Linked DNA regions of Homo sapiens. The protein of the gene in region 2 purifies or fractionates together with the protein of the main gene of each other region. This does not show direct contact. Each region holds a gene or a part of one and is shown on either strand. Other genes may lie near its edges. The genes, in order: AGAP1, KCTD3, DEPDC1B, KCTD15, FGD6, CRTC1 and TRAPPC6B.

Region 1 (3,500 bases), on a different chromosome or scaffold from region 2:
AGTCTTGGTACACACTCATGATTATTTACTAAGAATAGATTCCTGGAAGTAGAAGTTCTAAGTGAAAGGATATGTACTGGATATGTACCTTTTTCCCCACCTAGAGAGAGGGTCTTGCTCTGTTGCCCAGGCTGGAGTAGTGCAATCATAGCTCACTGCAGCCTCCATCTCCTGGGCTCAAGTGGTCCTCCCACCTCAGCCTCCTGAGTAGCTGGAACTACAGGTGTGAACCATGCACCTGGCTATTTAAAAATTTTTTTGTAGAGACAATGGTCTCCCTATGTTGGCCAGGCTGGTCTCGAACTCCTTGCCTCAAGTGATCCTCCCACCTTAGCCTCCCAAAGCACTAGGAGTACAGGCGTGAACCATCGTGTCTGGCTGATATGTAGTGTTTTTGAGGCTTATTTATTAAGTATGCATTTAATATTATGGTTAAAGCAAAAATTGATCAATTTCAGAGGACAGTTACAATAAGCTTGATTTTTGCGTAAGAATTCTTCATAAATTGAAACATCTCATCAAATTGATGTGAAATAATATATTACTTGCTACATAATAAATTATAATGTATTAATCACTACTGTCTAATTAGCATCATGCGTTATTGAATTTTAATTCCCTTTGGTTAGATACCCAAGTATTCAAAATATGTTTAAACAGTTTACACTGGCATCTGGAATGCAAGTGTGTGATCACACACACACACACACACACACACACACATACAAAGGGATGTGCCTCTGTCTCTCTGTGTACCTGTATCATTTCTGTGGTTGGTTGGTTTGTCTGTCTGTCTAGCTATGCCTATACCTGTATCAGCTCTCAATTATCCACTGGCAGGTAAAATACTATAAAGCTGGTGGTCAACTGGGCCTGTATTTTTGCCTCCCGCTACTCCTTGTGGACAGTATTTCCATGTTTTATGCCCTCACACCTGTTCAACCAATGCCCACGATGACCAGCTCTGAGTCGGCCACCTTTGGTTGCTCAACGCGTCCTCCTCCCAAGGGAGCAATTCCCTGGAGAACAGGCGCCTAGTGAGGGCCGAGGGCAGCATTCTAAGGCTGGTGTGTGCATGAGCTGAGACACGAGTCAGGAGGAGCCTGGCAAGGTGTGGAATGGGAAAGGCTGCCACCATCCCAGATCTTCCTGAATTAGGTCGAGGTGGCAGGGGCTCAGAGTCTGCCGTGAAAGACTGTGATTTCTCCATGAAGGCAGGAACCTGTGCCTCTCTGTTCGGTAACACAGCCTGCCTCCCTGCCTTCCTTCTCAGAATGAGCTGCCCACGCTTGGAGGATGCTGTGTGCTGTTGCTTCCCATTGAGGTGGCCCCAAAGCACCCTGTGCTCGTTTCAGGAGGCACATCATGGATGCATGTGGACGTGACCCAGTAAAGCCAGGGTGTATGGAATGAAAGGCAGTGGTTCTCCCCACCTTGAGTATAAAACATCTTTTAAAAAGGGAAGCAAATTACATTATAATAATAATGACTGTGGTCTGGTTTACCCTGGTTAAAGAGGGTAATAAAATAAGACACTTCATCTTTCTGAAAGACAGACTCTCTTTTTAGTGACAAAGCTGCACATAAATCATAGGCAGAAATTTCTTTAAATGGTTACAAATGAAACTGCAGGTCGGTGGGTAACATCCTTTCTCTTAGTTTCTAGTTGATCATAGTCTGAAATATCAAAATGCTCTCCAAAAGTCTAAGACGTCCCAGCAAAGAGGTTAAAGACAAACAAACATTAAAATAATGAAACTGAAGCAATCCTTGATGGGAAAAAGGACTTTTGTAGAAGGAACATCACTGGGCAGTAGCCTAGAGAACACAGGTTAAGCCAGGCGTGGTAGCTCATGCCTGTAATCCCAGGACTCTGGGTGTCTGAGGCAGGTGGATCGCTTGAGCCCAAGAGTTTGAGACCAGCCTGGGCAACGTGATGAAACCCCACCTCCACAAATAATATATATTACATAAATAAATATACAAATAAATAAGCAAGCAAGCCAGGCCTGTAGTCCCAGCAACTCAGGAGGCTGAGGTGGGAGGATTGCTTGAGCTTGGAGGTTGCAGTGAGCTAAGATTGTGCCACTGTACTCCAGCCTAGGTGACAGAGATAGACTCTCTCCAAAGGAAAAAAAAATACAGGTTAAAATATTTTTCCTTTTCTAGCTAAGTAACTACAAAAAACAAATTGCCTCTCATTATTTTTTTAATATAGAAACATTTGGGGGTGGCGTTTTCTGGTGAGAACCAGAAAACCTGCTGGACAAATTCTAAAAGAGCTGCACCACCACCTCTAATTATTGAATAAAACACATACCAGGCTTTATCAGTTTAGATAATAGAAACTTTATCTTCCCAAACTCCCTGCACGCTCATACAGACCCATCTACTTTTCATTTATGTCCCTAACAAGAGACGGTTTTCCAACTTGATGTCGATTTGAATTCTGGGCATTTACTTGAACAGTGCATCTTTTAAGTCCGTCTCTCTTTTTTTCTGAGTGTATTCTGTCCAAAACAAAAATAAATGTGGACCCAGAAGCCACAAGAGTCCAAAAGATTCCCTCTGGGATTGGCTGACAGACTGAAGATTTAACCTTGGCTCTCCTGCCAGGGAAGCACGGTCAGGCTGGAATACTCATGTATGATGGTATAGACACAAAGTGCTTCTGATCGTTTTAGTTATTGAGCTTTCTGCTCATAAAGAATAGCTAGGTCCTGTCATTCACACTGGTCCTCTATTTTCTCCTCCCTGGGGCATTACTTGGGGCCCGCACTCCCCCTGAGCAGCCCCAGCCTTGGTTTTGGGCAGCCAGGGGCCTCACCTTGTTCTTGCTGCTCTCGCACGACTGCAGGCTGGCCAGGATCTGGCTCTCGATGGCTTGGACCCAGGCGTCCCGCTCCTCATACGTCGTGGCTTCAAAGTGCCATGTTTGGCCAGTGAGGGACACAATGATAAACTCAAAATTTTCTTCTTGTTCTGAAACACAGAGTGTGGGATGAAGAGTTTAGCTTTTATGAGACAGCAGTCCCCCTGCGGGCCCTCTGTCACAGAAGCGCCTCTGGGTTCAGCTGCCCCTGCATGGACCGGTGAGGCGCACGGCACTGGACAACCACGGCGGCGGAGATTTGAATCCATGCACCTCCCAACAGTCCAGATGTGGTTCCTAAGGCCAGCATGACTTAGCCAGGTTTCAATCAAGGCTCAGGGCACAAGGCCAGATGAAATCAACGAGTGATGTCAGCGTCTCTGTGTGGTGCACACACAAAGCAACTTAGGAGAATAACCATGTAACTCATGGCTGACCATCCTTATCTGTGGGACGAAAATTAAGTTAGGGCCGCTAATCTCCGGCTGCAGGGTTAATTTCTATCTAAGCACTCGCGTAGATCCACAGACACTCCATGGATAGAGGAACGCGGGAAGGTTCTGTTCTTTTATGGCAGAGGACCTGTTACCGTGGGAGAGGCATCAATTCCCACGTTTTCAGACAGGGA
Region 2 (3,500 bases):
TGTCTTGAGGTACTAAATCTGCAATTAAAAATCATCTGGTATTATAAGTGAGAACATGATTTGAAATTTCAGTATTAGTTAACTTGTTTTAATACACTGGCTAATGATTTACAAGATGTTTTATAGTTATAGCTGTACCAATATATTTATTACAGTTAATATTTTTAAACGTTGCTACTTTCAATTCAGAGTTAAGATTATACAAGCAGCTCTCAATAACAATAAACAACTTGTTATCCGCCATATAATGCATCTTAAAACACTACTTTCCAATAAGCTAATCTCTGCTGAAGAATCAACAATTAGCCCATCACACCAAGTCTCAACTTCTCAGTATAACATTCAAAATTACCTTCAGGTTCCATCTCATCTCTCCAGTACAAATGCTGGTTTTCCCCTCTAATAGGACAAAACTTCTTCATATCCCCAAAAAATTCATGCTTACTACCATTTTGGTATCTTTATTCAGCTAGATCACTCTCTTCATGTCCAATAATTCAAGATCCGTCCATCTTTCTTGATACCACTCAGGTTTTACCTTCCCTGTAATAGTTTTTCTAAATATCCAATCCTGTATTATCTCTTTTTAAGCTCATAGTAATTTCACTGTAAATTACTCATTTAACACCTTCTTTATAGGCAGTCTTGGGCTATCTGCAACTGCTGACTTCATTCATTCAAAAATCATTCAGCCAAATACATCACTGTTCTGAGGTTGTCATTTGATCAAGCTTGTATATTACCAAGGGAGGATCTTTACCAAAGTACAGTATAATAGACTGGGACAACAAACCAATAATTTATGTAAACTGATATGGCAAACAAAGCAATATAGTACTTGTTCAGTCCAGCCCTTCTCTGAGTATTTTCATTTTAAGATATCACCTTGAACTACAATGTTATCTCACCCAGCCTAGCAAACCTCTACTTTCACTCCACATTTATTTTCTGGCATTATATGAAATCCCTAAATTTATTTTTACCTTTCATACTTAAACTAAACAAGGTGACTGAATAGTGGCACTAGTTACCATGCACTATCACCAGGAAACACAGGCCAAACCCCAGCCAAAATGGCTAAGGGATGTTTCCCAGGCTGTGCATGTATACACTGTATCATCCATCTATTGTCTGCCATTACCTAAATTAGCAGCCTGGAATTATCAAAAACGTGGAAGTTGCTTACTTTTTTTTATTATGCTCACTGCAGCATAACAAACCTCAAAATACATCCTACTTCCCATTCCCATCTTCTAAGTGGGCTATTAAATAGCACTGGATTGCAGGCCAGGGTGACTGTGACTACCAAGGCTTATACAGAGTAGTGTCAGAAGTCTCACAGATCTCTCAACTTTGCAAGTCCATCCAGGCACCTGAGGCAACAATGGCTCATAATATTTTACATATCTTGATAAATGGATTATCTGTAAATTCACTTTTCAAACTCAGTTTCAGAAATGGATTTTGTATTAAAAAAGTAGATGTTGTTTTTTCTTAAAGCCAGAGAGGACCACCTAAAAGCATTGTTCTTAGCACCTAGCACACACCCAGTAAATGTTTATTGAAACTTATGTGTGATAAACAGAATCACACTCTAAAACTCAGTTAAATGTTCTGTACAAAACGGAGACTTGATTCTTCTGTACGATCTGCAGGCATTTTATGGTTACAACAGAGCACTTTCAGAATACACTGGTGTTGACACACAGATGTCACTAAACTGCCCACTTAAATCATTTAGCAGTATCAGTCTCAGTGTCAGTAACAGCAGAAGCCGTGTATGCACTGTTCCATAAAAAGTGCCTTAGTCTCCAAAATAAATTTTCTATCATTATCAAAACATGCTTTCCAATCACAATTAAAAGTTTATCTCGGCTAGGCGCGGTGGCTCACGCCTGTAATCCCAGCACTTTGGGAGGCCGAGGCGGGCAGATCACGAGGTCAGCAGATGGAGACCATCCTGGCTAACACGGTGAAACCCCGTCTCTACTAAAACTACGAAAAATTAGCCAGGCGTGGTGGCGGGCACCTGTAGTCCCAGCTTACTCAGGAGGCTGAGGCAGGACAATGGCGTGAACTCAGGAGGTGGAGCTGGCAGTGAGCTGAGATCGCGCCACTGCACTCCAGCATGGGCGACAAAGCGAGACTCCGTCTCGGAAAAAAAAAAAAAAAAAGTTTATCTCCACTTCTTCCCACATACAACTTTACAATTTGTAAGGAAAAGTATTCTTTCATTGGCTAACTGAAGGAAAGACAGTAAAACAATTCATTTATTAAAGACATTTAAATGTAAACTACAGTAAGGGGTACTTTAGGGAACACATAGAAGTTGACTACTAACTAATTTCACAGGTTATGGACAGTCTAGGTGTTTATAAGCAGTTCCTACGCCCATTTATCTGATTAACAAATGAGTCACTTTAAGAAAACACTGCAAATGCTCCTAAATGCGTTTCTTAATAGACTCTTAAGAAAAATAAAAAATACACAGATTACCCCAGTCACAGAAAACTGACTTGGTCCAAAATCAAAGCAAATCCACTCAATGGTAAATTGAAGGATCCAAGGATTCATACATTGCAGATTCACTGTTTTGGAGGCCATCAAATTCATTCCAAATGAGGACAGCTTATAACTTGCAATCTTTTATATTCACCACTTATTCACCAATTGTATTCCAAATAATTAAAATTATGTGCTACTTAGAAAATCACAAAGGTCTGCTTAAAATCATATTATCAGTTTCAATTTTAATCAGCATTTTGGGGAAAGGTTAGTAACCTGGAATTTCTGGGCAAAGGAATTAGACCCTCATCCCCACCAATTTTTTTTTAAACTTCTGGCCCCAAAACCAGTCTCGAATATAACTTCATGAAAACTAACACACTTAAAATTACACATGATGAGCATAATCATTTGAAAGCCTTTTCTGTTTTGATTTGTTTTTTATCCCATACCCATAGTGTCCCAAGAACAGAGTCATGTACAATCTGGTTTCAGCAAAGGACTAAAGAAATTTGCATACCCACAGTTATACTTCATGCAACTTGCCTCCTACTAAATTAACTTGGTAGCAATCTAACTAGTTATTTATTCTGCACTGTAAGTACTGATAATGCCACTAACCCTTGCATTTCACATTTATTACTTCAAATTCCTATAACAATCTGATAAGATTGGTACTACTGTCTGTCACTTTACATTTTAATAGACTAAGTATCAAAATATTTGTCCAAGGTTGCTAGGCTAGTTAGAGATAAAGCCTGGGAATTGGAAACATATACCTGACTCAAAAGCTCTTTGTCCAGGAGTCCTCAATGGCTAGTCCCAGCCCTCTTGCATGAGGCCCAAAATCACACTTGCCCATAACAGAATTAATCATAAATTCAGTCATAGTGAATTCACTTCATTACTTTTTGTAAATAACGAATACTAACAATTCTAAATGAAACTTCATCTACTCTACTTTCTGAATCACCCACAAAGTATTAAACCATAAA
Region 3 (3,500 bases), on a different chromosome or scaffold from region 2:
AGCTACCTTTCAAAGAATACCTGACATATGTCAGAAATTCATCCTAGGAATTGTAAAGTACAGTGTTCTAATCTTCACAACTTTATAAAGAAAGAATAGCCCATTTTAACGCCTGAGGAAAGAAAGTAAAATCCAAAGCGGTTAAGGGACTTGCCCAGAGTCACACGACAGAAAGGATACAGCTAGGAATTTGGCCAGGGATTCATGGCTCTCATGCCAGTGTTCTTCTACTGTACTATGATTTTTAGACAGGCAATATGGAATGATAGTTTAGAGCACTGATTACAGAGGCTGACTGCAACAGTCAGAATTCTGGCTCTGTGGCCTTAAGCGAAGTTATTTAAGTTCTTTGTGCCTTAGCTTTTTCATGCAAAAAGTGGGAATATTAAACTAGGTCACAGGGCAATTATGAATCAAGACACTTACTGCACATAAAATCATTTCCATCAGTAGGTGTATGTAGATTCTAAACAAACTCATTCAAGGAATTAGCAATAAAAAATATGCCACATGGATTGATACACAAAACCAAATGTGCATTCTGTAAACTTTTCAATGATAATACAAACACATGCAGGGGATTACTATGTGCCAAGACCTGTTGTAAGTACTTTATAAACATTAATTCACTTAATCCTCATAATAAAATGCCCCAAGAAGCCTAGCAAGCTTACGTGACTTTATATTGCCAATTTCATAGAACTGATAATATCCTCTCCTTTACCTGGACTCTTCGTAGATGAGCCACACGCTCCTCTATAGAGGTCTGCAAGGCCAAAGGGACTTTCAGAATTTCCTGGTAATTGTCCATCAGAAACGTTACCAATCTAGCAGCTAATAACTCATCCAAGTCCACTTCATCCTTGGAACACAAGATGCAACGGGAAAATGTCTGAACCATCTAAAAAAAGAGCGGGGTGGGGGGTAAACGCAGATGAGTATTTTTCTGAACTGAGTGCAATCTAATTTGCAAAAGGCAAATATGAGAAATGGTCTAAGGCACAGGGTGCATATTCTACCAAGAGTACCCAGCCATCTCAGATGGGTTGACGGTCTCAACAACCAGAACAAACAAAATGTGCATCTTCCTGTTAAGAGACTGCAGAGAGATGCTTATCTGAGCAATTTTTAAACCTCCTTTTACACGATTTTAAATATACATATATATATATATATATATACACACACATACACACATATAAATATATGAAAACAAATTTTGAAAATCATTATCACCATGACTTGAATCATGTAGCACTACTAAGTTCAAAGCACTTTATAGCCATTTAGTCAATTATTATTTATCCTAATTTCATTATTGATTTGTTTTAAACCGCTAACACAGTCCACATGCCTCAACCATTACATCTTTTCCTAGTTAGCTTATTTTCTCTAGGATTTTCGATGTATATTTGACAATCATCTTTGAACAAAGCCATGGGACTTTTCAAGAAGTACATTAAGTGATGAGACTCTCTTTGAGGCAAGCAGAAATGCAAAATATATTATAGCATCAATGTAATAATTTCCATAGAATTGAAATTAACTATTCTTTTTTTTTTTTTTTTTTTTTTTACGGAGTCTCGCTCTGTAACCTATGCTGGAGTGCAATGGTGTGATCTTGGCTCACTGTAACCTCCGCCTCCCAGGTTCAAGCAATTCTCCTGCCCCAGCCTCCCGAGTAGCTGGGATTACAGGCGCCTGCCACCATGCCCAGCTAATTTTTGTAATTTTAATAGAGACGGGGTTTCACCATGTTGGTCAGGCTGGTCTAGAACTCCTGACCTCAGGTGATCCACCTGCCTCGGCCTCCCAAAGTGCTGGGATTACAGGAGTGAGCCACCACGCCCAGCCTAACTACTCCATTCTTAATACTGTTCTTTGGACTGGCTTTTGTTTTGTTTTGTTTTTTCCTACTACTTTTATCGCTGACAATCTTCCTTCAAAATCTTTAAGCAAAAAATCATGTAATTCTGCTTAGTAACACTTCATTAACACACTGCAAATGATCTTCACTTACATTTACATGTACAGAGAGACACACAGGCAGAGAATTTTTTGCCTGGAGACCATGGACCCCAGGGACTCTGTGATCGCCTTGAAACTGCATGCAAAGTTTTGCATGTGTATTTTATATGCAGAATAGATATAAAGTTTTCTTCAGCTTTTCAAAAAGGTCTATTAGCCTCTCTAACCATCCACTCACTCCAAAAAAATATAGAGATCAAGAATCCTACTGGGCACTAAGTGCTCCTCTGATCTCACTCTATTACTTCTAAAACTGGGCCAGTGAATCCCCAGGGAGTACACGGTGTTTTAACAGGATATGGAAAGCACATACATTCCACTGAAGCACCAGTTTTGCTCAAAGACATTTTTTGAGGAAAATCAAGAGATTTTGCTAGTAAGTAAATTCTAAAATAAACTCTCTTTAAAAACATATGCCAATAGAAGCAGAGATTAGATGGTAGGTACCACAGGCTGGGGGATACAGGGACATGGAAATAGATGTTGGTCAAAGGGTACAAAGATCCAGTGAGACAGGAGGATCAAGTCTTAATGCTCTAGTGCACAGCACGGTGACGACAATTATAATAATATATTGTATATTTCAAAATTGAGAAAAGAATAGATTTTTAATGATCTCATTACAAAAAAATGATAAGTTGGTATGGTAATGAATCTGTTAATTAGCTTGATTGACTCTATAATGTATACATGAATTAAAACATCACATATGCAATTATTAGTTGTCAATTAAGAATAAATTTAAAATAATTTTAAGTGGGAGAACAGGATGTAGCAGATCTCTCTACAGAGTCTGCCCCTACTCAAGTCTCCATTTCTCATTATGTTCTTTAAGACACTTAGAACAAAAGCACGACACAAGTCTGGGTGGACACTGACTGTGGCTCTTTTAAGCAAGTCTGCTTTGTACTTCCCTCTGATCACCCAAACTAATACACCTTACTCAGTCGACTTTCATTCCAAAAAGTCATACCTGATGTTAAAAATCAACCTACCAGTGTTCGGGTACCAAAGCCATCACACAGGGGTGGCATCTCTTTGTTTAAGCAAATCCTTGCCATCATCCTCATCAATAGCTGTAACTTTCTCCTATTTTCAGGAGGTAGGAGAAGGCAGCAAATCTGAAATGCTTCAACTGCCACTTTCTCCTTCTGTAACAAACCTGATTTAGAAAAAAAAAAATGTTATCTTTCAACACCTATAGCCTAGTAGATTCTATATGGTTGTATTTTAACAAAATATATATTAGTAAAATTACATAAAATATTTTCACATATTCAACTATACTGGGTCAATTGAATATAGATCCATTGTCACTCACAAATCACTATAGAAAATACAAACCATCAACCAGGCATGACAAATATATAGAACCAAATACAGCCATTTTCTCCTCCCATACACTAGACAGATATATCTCAATTTTCATAGCACTCTTTCCCGAACCAGGAGCAGCCAGGCTAACACTATCA
Region 4 (3,500 bases), on a different chromosome or scaffold from region 2:
CTGAGCTGGTTGTTTATGTCCATTTTATACATAAGGGAACTGAGGCCGGGCGCAGTGGCTCACGCCTTGGGAGGCCGAGGCAGGTGGATCACATGAGGGCAGGAGTTCAAGACCAGCCTGGCCAACATGGGAAAACCCCATCTCTACTAAAAACATAAAAGTTAGCCGGGTGTGGTGGCAGGCACCTGTAGTCCCAGCTACTCGGGAGGCTGAGGCACGAGAATTGTGGAGTTTGCTGTGAGCCAAAATCGAGCCACTGCACTCCAGCCTGGGTGACAGAGAGAGTCTGTCTCAAAAAACAAAAACAAAAAAAAAAAACAAAAAAAAACGAAAAAAAAACCAAGAGGCTCAGTTAGTGAGGTATAGAGGTTTAGAGGTCTCAGGGCAGGTTGATGATGAAGCTGAAAATCTGACCCAGGCAGGCTTGGCTGGAGAAGAACTTTTTTTGCTTCCGGGTAGGCTGTGAGCTCCTAGGCCCGGCTGCCCTGTGCCCAGCATGATCTCTTCTCTCGGTGGGATTCTAAGGCAGCAGCAGGTCCCCAGGCATAGGCACAGCCTCGTCCTTTAGTGGAGCTTCCAGGTCTTTCCATGGGGAGGCTTCACTGCCCAGTGCCTGGGGCCAGATGGAAGGGCTCAGGGGGGCTGGCACAGGTGCACATCAGCGGCTGCCCTTGGGACAAGGCTAGGTTCTTTATACTTGCAAACCACTCAGTTGCCCCATCTGTACAATGGGTGCAACCGGCCCAGTCCACACAATACCCTGCGAGTCGCAGTTCCTGCAGAATTGGTTGGAACCGGCAGGCCGCCTCCCCTCTCCCCCTTCCCCCACCACCCCTACTCCGACACCCACATCAACACCCTGTGCGCCTGTCCCCAGGACTTCAGTCTGCTGTACGAGGAGGCGCGCTACTATCAGCTCCAGCCCATGGTGCGCGAGCTGGAGCGCTGGCAGCAGGAGCAGGAGCAGCGGCGCCGCAGCCGGGCCTGTGACTGCCTGGTGGTGCGCGTCACGCCCGACTTGGGCGAGCGGATCGCACTCAGCGGCGAGAAGGCCCTCATCGAGGAGGTCTTCCCCGAGACCGGAGACGTCATGTGCAACTCCGTCAACGCCGGCTGGAACCAGGACCCCACGCACGTCATCCGCTTCCCGCTCAATGGCTACTGCCGGCTCAACTCGGTACAGGTGAGGGCTGCACGCTGCCCCCTCCCCGCCGCACCCCCGGCGTCCGCGGAGCCCTCCAGGGGCAGAGTGAGCTGGAGGGAGGCGCGATCCCTGAAACGGTGAAGCCCCCCGTGCCATCCTACAAAAAAGGCAACAATGTGTCGATGCATAATTTATGTCCCTCTCATAATTAAATGATGGCGCCTGGGGGATGGACTTAAAAAAATCGATCTGTACTTTTTTTTTTTTTTTCCAAAAGGATGTTCTATAAAAATGGCCCAGAGTATTTTCAACAAAGCGTGCTTCATTTGACACCCAGAGTCTGACTTTGGATTCGAACTAAACCCAGGCAACAGGCGAGGCAGGACAGAGGCTGAGTGGAAAGGTGGTCTGGAGCCCCTTCCCTCTCCCTGCTGACCTGGGAGTCGCAGGCACCCACCAGCTGCCAAGAGAATCCCTGGACCGGCTCTTCCTGGATGGGTCCAAGAATTGGACAGCTCAGATGGAGTGAGGGCCTATTTTCCAACAGCTCTTCGCAGACCCAAGAGCTTGGCACATTTCCGGGTTAGGGTGGAATGGGCTTTGCAGGGAAGAGGGCCCCCTGTGCACGCATTCCACAGCCTGTCGGTCAGAACTTGCTAGTTGCAGGAGACGGGTGTTACACGCAGTCATCAGACCTCACCCTCACAGAGGCACAAACCCACATAGTTGTGGACGCCTGCAGAGACTCAAATATTGAGAGGACTTCTCCTTTTTCTCTCCCTCCAGAGCTCCCACGAGCTGATGCACCCCCAGGCTTCAAACCACCTGGAATGCACAGCTCAGGGAAGCTGGTGGATGCCTAGAGGCTGAAGGACAGGGAACTCTCCATTATTGGGGCAGGACTCAGGGAGGACACTTGGGGCCATGTGTCTGGAGAGAGGGCATAGGTTACACCCTACAGAATAAAGAAGGGACCCAAAGCCTCTTTTTGCCTCCCGGAATCAAGGCCCTGAGGGCAGCAGGATGGTGGCCTGGGTGGGGTCGTCCAACTAGGTTTGCTAACCTGAGGGGTCACTGGGCCTGGCCACTTCTGTCCCTCTGGTGGTGGAACCCAGCACGTGGTTCTGTAGGGACCTTTGTCAGTGAGCAAGACTGAGATCGTCACAGGAGAAGGTGCCCTTGCTGGCTGCCCCAGCAGGCACCCACCTCCCTGCCAGGCCAAGCCAGGTGTCCTCTTGCAGCTTGGCCTTGATGACCTCTGTTTCTTCCTGGGCAGGTCCTGGAGCGGCTGTTCCAGAGGGGTTTCAGCGTGGCTGCGTCCTGTGGGGGCGGTGTGGACTCCTCCCAGTTCAGCGAGTATGTGCTTTGCCGGGAGGAGCGGCGGCCGCAGCCCACCCCCACTGCTGTTCGAATCAAGCAGGAACCCCTGGACTAGGCCCTGCTTCAGTGCCCACCTGGGCCCCCCCAGGGACCTGGAAACAGTGCTGGGGAGTTCTGCCTGTGTATACTTGGCCGTGGGCATGAGACCGAGGGTGAGGCTGGAGGGTCCAAAGCTGGCCCAGCGAGCACCAGGGTCCCAGGTGTCATGGCAACAGAACGTGGGATGCTGGAGGCATGCCTGCAGAAGGACTGTTGATGCGACCCAAAGATACAGCGGTGGGATCTCTGCTGCCAGCTCTCCCAGCCCCTCAGCTTCGCAGCCTGGCGCAGCATCCTCTGAGGCCCCGGGGCCTGTTGGGGCGGGGTTGGAAGAGCCGTCTGCAGCTACTTCAGAGGAGCTGTTTATCCCTCTCCACGCGGGGCAGACTCTGGCGGGTCTCCTAGCGTCCGAGAGATGGCTTATTTTCTACAGTATTTAAAATGGATGCAGCCCTAACTGCAAAAGTCAGAGAGGCTGACAAGGACCAATGCTTCTTTATCTGGTGCTCAGTTCTCAGTCAGACGTGCAGCATGGCTGCAGGGTGGACCAGCTGCCTGGCATTCAGGCCCAGATGCCTGCAGGGCTGGGGCTCTCGGGACAGATGCAGGGATGTGTGCTGCAGGGCTGCTGGGAGGAGAGTGGTGGGGGCCTGAGGGCTGAGTGATTCTGTAACCACCTGAGACCTTCACGTTTGCTGCCGTTGGGGGCTCAGGCTGCACTCCCCGGGTCACCTGACCTGCTGCCCAGGGGCTTCCAGTCCTGTCTGTGTGGACTGGCACCTGGGCTGCTGGAGAAGTCTCCTCCCGTTCGGACCAGCCTCAGGGCTGCACGTTACCTCAGGAATGGGCCCCACCATGAAGGGGCCCATCTGTCAGCAGCGTCTTCTAGGTCCCCAGCTCAGGGAGCCATCCCCAGCTCCAGTTTTCTCATGCGAAT
Region 5 (3,500 bases), on a different chromosome or scaffold from region 2:
TAGTGGACTAAGAACAATCTAAAGATTTCCAAAAGGGTCCATGTGCTTTTTTGTTAAACACAAACAAACATTAGAAATACAATGGAAAAGCTACCTATGCGACTATGGAGAGAAGGAAGCCGCTGCAGTGGTTGCTCTCTTGGCCTATTTTCATTCATTCTCTCTTAGACCCAATCAACATCTACTGATTCTACTAGGCCTCTTGCTTGGCTTTATCCAGGGCAAAGAGATGACTAGAACTCTTCATGGAGCTTAAAACCAAATACAGAACATCAGACATGCCAATAAATAGTTATACATTAAGACAGCCTGAGATGAAAGGATATCACAGCATAACTGGGTGGTCAGAATAGGAAGTAAACACTTCTGACTAGGTAATTGTAGAAGCTTAATGAAGCCAAAGACTGAGGGGGTGGATTATTGAGGATGGGCACGATTTTAATAAGAGAGATGGAGTAGGTATTCCACAGGTAGGAAGTGCACACACAAAAGTGAGAAATAGGCCCAGTGTAGTGACTCATGCCTGTAATCCCAACCCTTTGGGAGGCAAAGGCAGGAGCAGTGCTTGAGCCCAGGAGTTCAAGACCAGCCTGGGCATGATGGCAAAACCCTGTCTCTACAAAAAATACAAAAATTATCTAGGCATGGTGGCATGCACCTATAGTCCCAGCTACTCAAGGAGGCTGAGATGGGAGGACTCCTTGAGCCTGGGGAGTCGAGGCTGCAGTAAGCCATGATCATACCACTGCACTCCAGCCTGGGTGACAGAGTAAGACCTCATCTCAAAAAAAAAATTTTTTTTTAATTAAATTATTTTAAAAGTGAGAAATAAAGAGTAGTTACGTGTTTCCTGCATTTTTCCTATATCCACTTGAGGTCAGCAATTAGCCATCAACAGGTAAAATGACCAATCTTCAAAGAGTGGTGAACTTCTAAAAATGTGGAGGTTCCACCTGATAAGCGCACCACACGTAAATGCCTACATATTTCAGTAACTTCAGACTTCTTATACCTAGCAAATAAATGTCATTGAATTGGCCAATTTCCTGCCCCAGGTTTCCTGATATGACTTCTGAGCTGGTGTCTGGAGGCCCAGGACCTCTCTGTTCCACGCCTTCCTTGCAGCAGCACCTACATTGCCACTGGTTCAAATTCTTTGAATCGGTTACTAAAATAAATTAACTACTTCAAGCTTGTATTGCAAATACCCATTCCAACTGTATGCTAAAAGGAGGCTGCACTTGAGAATAATTACACATTTTCTAAACTATTCCTTCAACCACGTGTTTTTTTTCCCCCTGCATTCCTAACTCACCAGGCTGTTGAAGGTTAATTGCAATGATGCATGCAAAAGTGTCTGTCTGGCACCTGTTACCTGGAATGCTGATGTCTGGGTCCAAGCTGCAGCTGGCCATCTGGAGCTTCATACGGCTCTTCTACCTCATACACATTTGCATCAGCGTCCTCCATGCTGCTGGAATTCTGCCATTCCAACTCTTGAGTTTTCCGTATAGCCATAATAAATGGCAAGTTCTCGTACTCTGGTATTTCCTCATAATGGCGTATATTTTCATACTCCGGTGCACAGAGGCTTGTAACAGACTTGTAAGGTGCCTGAGATGATGACTCCCGGGAGAGCATTTGGTCATCCAAAGACTCAGCTCTCAGACCATTAGCTGCACTGGTCTGGCCCCGAGACTTCTTCCTCTTCTTTTGAGATTCCAGGCTATAGTTTTCTGTGGAATATGCCTTGATGGGTTTACTTCTCTTCTCCTCTCCTACCAACAAGCCTTGCCAATCACTTTCAATCCCCTTCTGCTCCCCACTGGAGAGGTGGCCTGTGGTGGTGTCTCCGAGTTGGCTACTCTTGGACCAAAATTTTTGAAAGTCACTCTTCATGAAACAGATGGACAGTTTCATGCTGAGCAACTTTTTAAAAGAGTTTTTCTTTGTAGAGTCTTTGCAAGGCTTAGTGCACTTTTCCACATCCATAGCAGATAACGATTTTGCTCTGGGCTTGGTTAGGGCTGTTGAAGGCTCACTGTTTGACGATACGGTGACAGACTTTAAGAATTCTGGGTTCCCTGAAAAGGGTAAAATAGGATGAGGTAACTTCCACACTGGCTTTTCTGAAGCCCGTTTAGGCATATCAAAGGAGGATGACACACCACGGTTTTGGGCACACAAATGCTGAAGGTGATTTCTTTCTAGACTCTTCTCTGAACTTTTTTCTTCACTTGAAGGATAAGAACTTTTTTCCAAAAGCTCCTCGGAGGCAGCCTTTTTAAGCACTCCTGTAGCAGGCAAGCTATGTCTTTGAGGTTTTTTGGGGACAATTCGTAGAGAATTTTCCTCTTTTATAACAGATTCCTTTTGCATTTGAGGGGCAGAAACTCCCAGGTTTCTCCCAGATTGCAAATGTTCATTGCAAGTTAATTTGAGCTGCTTAGGCAGGCTCATAGATACAGTACATCTTATAAAACCGGTCCCTTCGTCCACAGCAAGCGACATACTAGAACCATCTACAGTTGTGCTGTCAGAACTCAAATTAGAGTCTTTATCAAAAGAAGGTGCCATTTTTTCAAAGGAAGTTGTTTCATTACACATGGCTTTCTGTGAATTGACTAAGTCCTGTGCATCACTGTTGGATTCCATATTCAATTCACTTTTATTTCCTAGCTTCATTTTATCCACCTGTTCCTGCTTACACAAAACATTCTGATGCAGAACACTGATTTTATTGATTTTCAAACTATTTTCAGTAAGACAGGAAGAGCTACTGTCTGAATTCCCCGGTTCTTCAGTGCTTTCACTAGGAGTATCTACACACTTTTGGCGTAACAGACGAGCAGTTCGTGTCTTTCTGGGCTTGGGAGTTGGAAATTTTGGGGTATATGGTACTAAATGAATTTCTAAGGGACCAAGGTCTTTGACTTCTGATTTCTTACTAACTCCATCTGAAGATATTAAAGTACTCCTTTTCCCATTTTCCAGAGCCTCTAGTTCAGATGACTGAAAGCAATTATTGCTTTTTTCACTGTCATCCTGGCAAGTTTCAAAATGTTCACATTCATCACTAGGAAGCTGTAAGTGGCAACTGTGATGATCAGGAACTTTTTCAAAGCTGGATGGGGAAGGTGACAAATCCGCAAATTCAATTCTGAATTGTCCATTTGAATTACAGCCACCATTCATTTCTGGGCTGTCTGTGGGCCTGTGCTTCTGTGCAGAAATAAAAGGTGGCATTTGGTGTATTAAGGCATCTTTGAGCTCCTCTTCTAAAACGCTTGCCTTTAAAACAACCCCACCCTGGTTCTTGGCTTTTTCACCATACAAATCACATTTACTCCTAGTTTTTATAGTCAAAGTCTCATCAATTTTACTGTTTTCTAAATTTTCATTCATTTCCAGGGGCTCTAAAACAAGCTGCTTTACACACAAATTCTCTCTATGGCCCAGCTTATGGATACACTCAGAACTGCAGGAACACATTGGTGAAA
Region 6 (2,577 bases), on a different chromosome or scaffold from region 2:
CCGTCCTGAGGGGGAAGTGAGAAGGGCTCAGAGAGGACAAAATAAAGTGTGTGTGCAGGGAGTGGCGGCTGTGGTTTTTGCTGCATGGAGACAGTAGGGACGGGCCTCTGAGGGAGGGTCGGGCCAGGGAACCCCAAACCAAGGCCTCAGTGCTGCAGCTGCTGCTGAGTGCCAGTGGCCTGCCAGGGACTGTCCAACTGTGATTTGGGATTTGGGGAGGCCCCTGGGTCCACCTCCACGACCCACCACCTCATGGTCACAGGCCTGGATGCCAGCCATGGAAGAGCTGAGACCCCGATACAGTGTCCGCCCCAGGATTCTGGGGGGCAGGTTCCCAGTTGTCCCAGCTTTGGGGACCCCTTCCCTTGCCTGGTCTGGGGTGTGTGTGTGTGTGTGTGTGTGTGTTCGGAAGGGTTGAGGCACCTGCCAGTGCACCTGCCACGCCCATGTGTCACCCCTGAGGGAGGAGGGAGGGGCTCAGAAAAAAGAGGAAGAGCCAGTGACGAAAACGTTGGATTTTTATTACGTTTCATTACAAAGGATGCAAAGGTACAAAGACAAAAGCAGCCCTGCCAGAGGATGGGGCAGGGACGGCCGAGTGTGCCCTGAGCCGCCTGCCCCCGCCCGCTGCGGCCGCCCACAATCATGGCCCACGGGACGTCCGTGGCAGAGTATACATGCTAGGGTTGGGGGAGAGCCAGCCTGGGCACAGAGGAGCACAGGCAGGAACAGGGCTCGGACCGGCGGGTTTGCATATATCAGTGGGGCCACCCAGCCCCTAGGGGACAGTTTCCTACTCAGGGGCACGGCAGGGCCAGTGGACTTTGGCTGCCAAAGCCCTCCCTCCCCAGGCCTACTGGCCAAGTCCATGGCTAAGTCCCCTCCTGGTGGGCAGGAGATCAGAAGTTCTTGATGGCTGGGCTGGGCAAGGGTTGCCCCCAAATTCCAGAACACTTCGAGATGGGGGCCATCCCCCGACCCCAACACATGCCACCTGTCCCTGGCTCCTGGGGGTGGGGTGCTGGCCAGGAGCCCAGAAGGTGGATACAGGCTCTGGAATCATCAGAGCCAGCACCACCCCAAGGCCCAGCCCCTGCCCCCCATCCTGCCCAGGAGGAGCCCGGGGCCCTGAGACCTGCAGGTTTGAGAAAGTGACAAGAGAGAAACTGAGGCTGGGATCACGAGGCACTCACTCCTGCCCCACCCATGCCCTCAGGAACTCCCCAGCACCCAGGCCTGGGGGTACAACTTACTCCACCTCCTGCTCCCAGGGGGAGAATGGTGTCTGTGGCCAGTGGGGGTGGGTGGACACCTGTGCCACACGGAAGAGTATGGGGTGCCTGACCCCTGCCTGGCCAGGACCCTGGAAGGCCAAGGGCCGCAGGGAACAGGACACTTGGCTCAGGTGGAGCTGACGGGAGAATGTCCCAGGGACCCCCAAATCACATGCCGCAAGAGCCCCCAGGAAATGGAGGCCCCTGGTCCATGGTGAATGGGGGTAGAAAGAGACCCAGGTGTCCATGTAGCCCAGGCAGGCCTCCCAGGGTGAGTGAGGGGCCGAGTCTTGCCCCTGCTCTTAGGCTGTGTAGGGAAGGCTCTGGCGCCCGCACGCCCTGGCCCAGGGCACCACATGTGGGTGACGGGCCAGGCCCAGGGGCACATCTGTGCCATCGGCTTTGTGGCCCTTGCTCTGAGAGCCCCTGCGTCCCACCCCCACACAGAGGGCCCCTCGGCCTCTGAGACGGCTCCATCGGGACCCAGTGAAGGTGATGGGAGCTGCTGTTTTCAGGGCGAGGTGACAGAGGACCCCCGAATACCGCTGGACCTTACTCCACCAGCCTCTCCCTGGTCGGAGGGCTCCTTGGAAATACAGAAAACTCAGGAAGCAGGTCGCAGCCCGAGTTTGGAAGGATGTTTGGTTAAAAACCAGCTCAAGGCCCACCTAAGGGAGGCACCAGAGCCCCCTCTAGGGACGGGTCCTGCCAAGGCTGTTCAGGCCTGGGATGCTGGGCAGAAGTGGCTCACACCTGTAGCCCCAGAACTTTGGGAGGCCGAGGAGGGAGGACTGCTTGAGCCCAGGAGTCCGAGACCAGCCTGGGCAACACAGCAAGACCCCATCTCTAAAAAAATAAAATAGAAGCCACCCGGCCTGGCCCCCCATGGGCTTCTGGCAGGCTCCTGTCCCACCTGACCGGGCTCAGGCGAGGTCCCAGCTCACAGCCCCCAAGCCTGACATCCAAGCCCCAGCAGGAGGGATGGATGGACATGGGGGGCCCTCCTGGCTAGGGGTCCTCCCGGGAGCTTGGCCCCCTGAAGAAATCAGGCCAAACACACTGATGCCAACACTCTCCTCCCCAGAGCCGAAAACCCACAAGCAGGGCCCTGATGAGGGCAAAGAACCCTCTTCTCTGGAGGACACAGAGAGAGGCTGAACTTGGGCTACACCCTCTGCCTGCAAGACTTGCCACCCTGGGTAGTGACGTCGGCGAAACAGGAAGGTGGGGACGCCATGCTCTCAGGAGGGAGAGCCCTGGCTGAACTTCGCCGTAGGGGACCGATGTACCCAGCAGAGGGTCT
Region 7 (3,010 bases), on a different chromosome or scaffold from region 2:
TTAAGTTGATTTCTTTTTTTTTTTGGAGACAGAGTCTCACTGTGTCGCCCAGGCTGGAGCGCAGTGGCTCCATCTTGGCTCACTGCAACCTCCGACTCCCGGGTTCAAGCAATTCTCCTGCCTCAGCCTCCCAAGTAGCTGGGACTACAGGCGCCCACCACCACACCCAGCTAATTTTTGTATTTTTTTCAGTAGAGACAGGGTTTCACTGTTTGGCCAGGCTGGTCTTGAACTCCTGACCTCATGATCTGCCCCACCTCGGCCTCCCAAAGTGCTGGGATTACAGGCTTGAGCCACCACACCCGGCCTTAAGTTGATTTCTATGTATGGCATTAAGGCAACAATCCAATTTCATTCTTTTGTATGTGGATGTCCAGTTTTCCCAACACTATTTGTTGAAGAGATTTTACTACATTTCTTTGTTTTATAGTTTTCCTTTATGATTTCCTACATTTGTGTGTTGGAAAGGCCTTCTCCACCACAAAATCACGAAAGTATTATCACATTTTCTTTAGTACTTTATTGTTTTACAAGTGAACCTTTAAGTTTCTCCCCACCTACTCCCGCAGAAAAAGGCATATTCAATTGTCCCATACTAATTTTTGAATAACCTAACTCTCCCTTTGTTTCTACTAAGAGAGGTTTCTTTTTGGCTACAAGTAACAATATACATATACCCAAAGCAAATGGAACAATATAAAGAATATCTCACATAACAAAAAGTCCAAAGGTAAAGCAGTTCCTGGATTGGTTAATTCAGAAGCACAATTCAGGTGCTTTCTATCTACATCCCACTATTCTCAGTGTGATAGCTTTCATCTCCATACTTGTCCTTTCATGGCCATCAGAAGGCTGTTGCAGATTAGCTTCAAACATCCATATCACATATCTTCACTGAGAAGCAGAAGAGGGATGCTGGCAAATCCCTAACTTGTATCAATTGTTAAGAGCAACAGAAAATTTCTTATTCAAAGCCTTCAGACTTCCTTTGTCTCGTTAGCCTAGATTCCATCAAATGATCAAGTAAGCCAATTACCATGATTGGCACAGAATCTAATCAACACTCACCCTCTCTAGGCTAGGGAAGCACCCTATTCTATAGCACAAGGCAGCCATACAGAGTTTTAGGCCAAAAAAAAAGAAAAAAAAAATGGGGCTTTGTCAGCAAGGAAGGGAGAACGAAATGGCTGATGGGTAGGCATATGAATGTCTAACAAACCAACTTATTTGAACCCAGCTTTTTCACACACACAATTCTCACACCTGTTTTATTTTGAAGTTCTCTATTGTGTTCTATTTTGATCTACTTCTGTGTCATTAGCTATTCCTGGGTCATTATGACTTTTAATAAACTTTATACATGTATATTTGGTAGGAACTTTCCTAAATTTTTTCAAAATTAAAATTTTTTCCCCAAAACATGTGAGAATTAGGATTGCAGTCATGCATTGCTTAGCAAAGGGGATACATTCTGAGAAATGCATCATCATTAGGAGATTTTAAAATTGTACAATCACAGAGTGTACTTACACAAACCTAGATGGTATGATCTACTATACACCTAAGCTATGGCCTATTGCTCCTAGGCTACAAACCTGTACAGCATATTATTGTAGTGAATACTGTAGGACACTGTAACACAATGGTAAGTACTTGCATATCTAAACATAAAGAAGGTACAGTAAAAATACAGTATTGTAATCTTATGGAACCACTGCCATATATGAGGTCTGTCACTGACTGAAACATCATTATAGGGCACATAACTAGAATTTAATAAATCAAGTTAAACAAATTATCTTTGTAATACTGTACCCTTCCATGAAAGGAAAATGGTATGCTTCTAACTTGAGTTTTCTTTAATGTCCTAAAGTACATTTTTATAGTTTTTATTTTGTGTTTTTAATATAATGTTTGGTATAGTCAATCTTCTTAATCTGCCATTTCTATGGCAGAGTACCCAGTGAAACATCTTGTTTGGTGTGTCAGTCACCCCCTGCTGCAGAGTTCCCTGTCACACAAATACATGCAAAAGGGTAATAAATAAATGGGAAACAAAGTATAGTTTTAGTAATCAACATGCAAGATTCTAACAAAAGCTGGAGATAACTGCTTATGCCAGATAATTTAAGTAAGAGAAAGTAAGTAGAAGAGGTGGTAAGAAAGATATATCAGATGAGCACTGACCCCAAACCACTAAGATGATATGGTCCAAAGAATGTCAGAATGACTAATTCAATTATCCAACTCTGCTCAGCTGGAAGAGGAAAGAAGGGAATAAAGATGTTAGATCCTTTACCAGGACTTCCATGCACGGGGAGAGAAGTTGAAAGTCAAAACTGTAACAGGAATAAATACAAAAATTCTTTCCAAACATACCTAATATTCTTTGGCCCTAGAGTCACTGAATTCACATTTAAACTAATCTATATTTCATTTTGATTACATTAATGGAGCTCTGAAGGAATGAAACCTATTAAAGAAAAATTAAATTTATAAACAATTTAGGCAGTCATATATGTATTTATATATACACACATACAATGTATATATGAAATCCTTATACAGGTGTAAACATTCTTAATAAATTATAAGCAATAAAATAAAAAAAATTTAGTATGTTTGCTTTTTAAAATAAAACAAATTCATACTTTATCAAAATTTGTTCATTCTTCTCACAAATAATTCTGTTGGTACATAATTTTCTCTCATGCTAATTCAACAAACCCTGAGCTTTGTTTCTCCATCTATGGCTAAATACATATCACTCTAACCAAATAAAAAGGTTTAAAATAAGGGCCCTGCATCTTGGTGTCTGGTTATTTGAAATCCGGTTTTCATTTTGAATAGTTTTGGTTAAGTGTATGTCATGGCAGAATGTCCCTTCATCTCCTTTGATCTGTGTTAAATTGATAAAAATACATGCTTACTCCTGTACAAACATCGAACAATGTAATTAAATCATCACTACTTGAAATACTTTTACATGAATAATTTATCTCTTTACACT

What was found.
Region 1: the proteins of KCTD3 (region 2) and AGAP1 purify together in Homo sapiens (affinity purification with mass spectrometry, with the first as the bait; one large-scale study listed by BioGRID). This does not show direct contact.
Region 3: the proteins of KCTD3 (region 2) and DEPDC1B purify together in Homo sapiens (affinity purification with mass spectrometry, with the first as the bait; one large-scale study listed by BioGRID). This does not show direct contact.
Region 4: the proteins of KCTD3 (region 2) and KCTD15 purify together in Homo sapiens (affinity purification with mass spectrometry; 2 studies listed by BioGRID and IntAct, with this or other methods). This does not show direct contact.
Region 5: the proteins of KCTD3 (region 2) and FGD6 purify together in Homo sapiens (affinity purification with mass spectrometry, with the first as the bait; one large-scale study listed by BioGRID). This does not show direct contact.
Region 6: the proteins of KCTD3 (region 2) and CRTC1 purify together in Homo sapiens (affinity purification with mass spectrometry, with the first as the bait; one large-scale study listed by BioGRID). This does not show direct contact.
Region 7: the proteins of KCTD3 (region 2) and TRAPPC6B purify together in Homo sapiens (affinity purification with mass spectrometry; 2 studies listed by BioGRID and IntAct, with this or other methods). This does not show direct contact.

The regions. Positions count from the first base shown.
Region 1 is NC_000002.12:236,036,043-236,039,542, reverse strand, and holds part of AGAP1 (arf-GAP with GTPase, ANK repeat and PH domain-containing protein 1), read right to left. Parts: intron 2,983-3,500; coding exon 2,828-2,982; intron 1-2,827. UniProt on the Homo sapiens protein: GTPase-activating protein for ARF1 and, to a lesser extent, ARF5. Directly and specifically regulates the adapter protein 3 (AP-3)-dependent trafficking of proteins in the endosomal-lysosomal system.
Region 2 is NC_000001.11:215,570,304-215,573,803, reverse strand, and holds part of KCTD3 (BTB/POZ domain-containing protein KCTD3), read right to left. Parts: intron 19-3,500; coding exon 1-18. UniProt on the Homo sapiens protein: Accessory subunit of potassium/sodium hyperpolarization-activated cyclic nucleotide-gated channel 3 (HCN3) up-regulating its cell-surface expression and current density without affecting its voltage dependence and kinetics.
Region 3 is NC_000005.10:60,602,667-60,606,166, forward strand, and holds part of DEPDC1B (DEP domain-containing protein 1B), read right to left. Parts: intron 3,191-3,500; coding exon 3,024-3,190; intron 902-3,023; coding exon 725-901; intron 1-724.
Region 4 is NC_000019.10:33,810,370-33,813,869, forward strand, and holds part of KCTD15 (BTB/POZ domain-containing protein KCTD15), read left to right. Parts: intron 1-877; coding exon 878-1,183; intron 1,184-1,421; coding exon of another isoform or gene 1,422-1,433; exon of another isoform or gene 1,434-2,420; coding exon 2,421-2,579; coding exon of another isoform or gene 2,580-3,003; 3' UTR 3,004-3,500. UniProt on the Homo sapiens protein: During embryonic development, it is involved in neural crest formation. Inhibits AP2 transcriptional activity by interaction with its activation domain.
Region 5 is NC_000012.12:95,207,468-95,210,967, forward strand, and holds part of FGD6 (FYVE, RhoGEF and PH domain-containing protein 6), read right to left. Parts: coding exon 1,376-3,500; intron 1-1,375. UniProt on the Homo sapiens protein: May activate CDC42, a member of the Ras-like family of Rho- and Rac proteins, by exchanging bound GDP for free GTP. May play a role in regulating the actin cytoskeleton and cell shape.
Region 6 is NC_000019.10:18,780,257-18,782,833, reverse strand, and holds the end of CRTC1 (CREB-regulated transcription coactivator 1), read right to left. Parts: 3' UTR 501-2,577; downstream 1-500. UniProt on the Homo sapiens protein: Transcriptional coactivator for CREB1 which activates transcription through both consensus and variant cAMP response element (CRE) sites.
Region 7 is NC_000014.9:39,147,314-39,150,323, forward strand, and holds the end of TRAPPC6B (trafficking protein particle complex subunit 6B), read right to left. Parts: 3' UTR 501-3,010; downstream 1-500. UniProt on the Homo sapiens protein: Component of a transport protein particle (TRAPP) complex that may function in specific stages of inter-organelle traffic.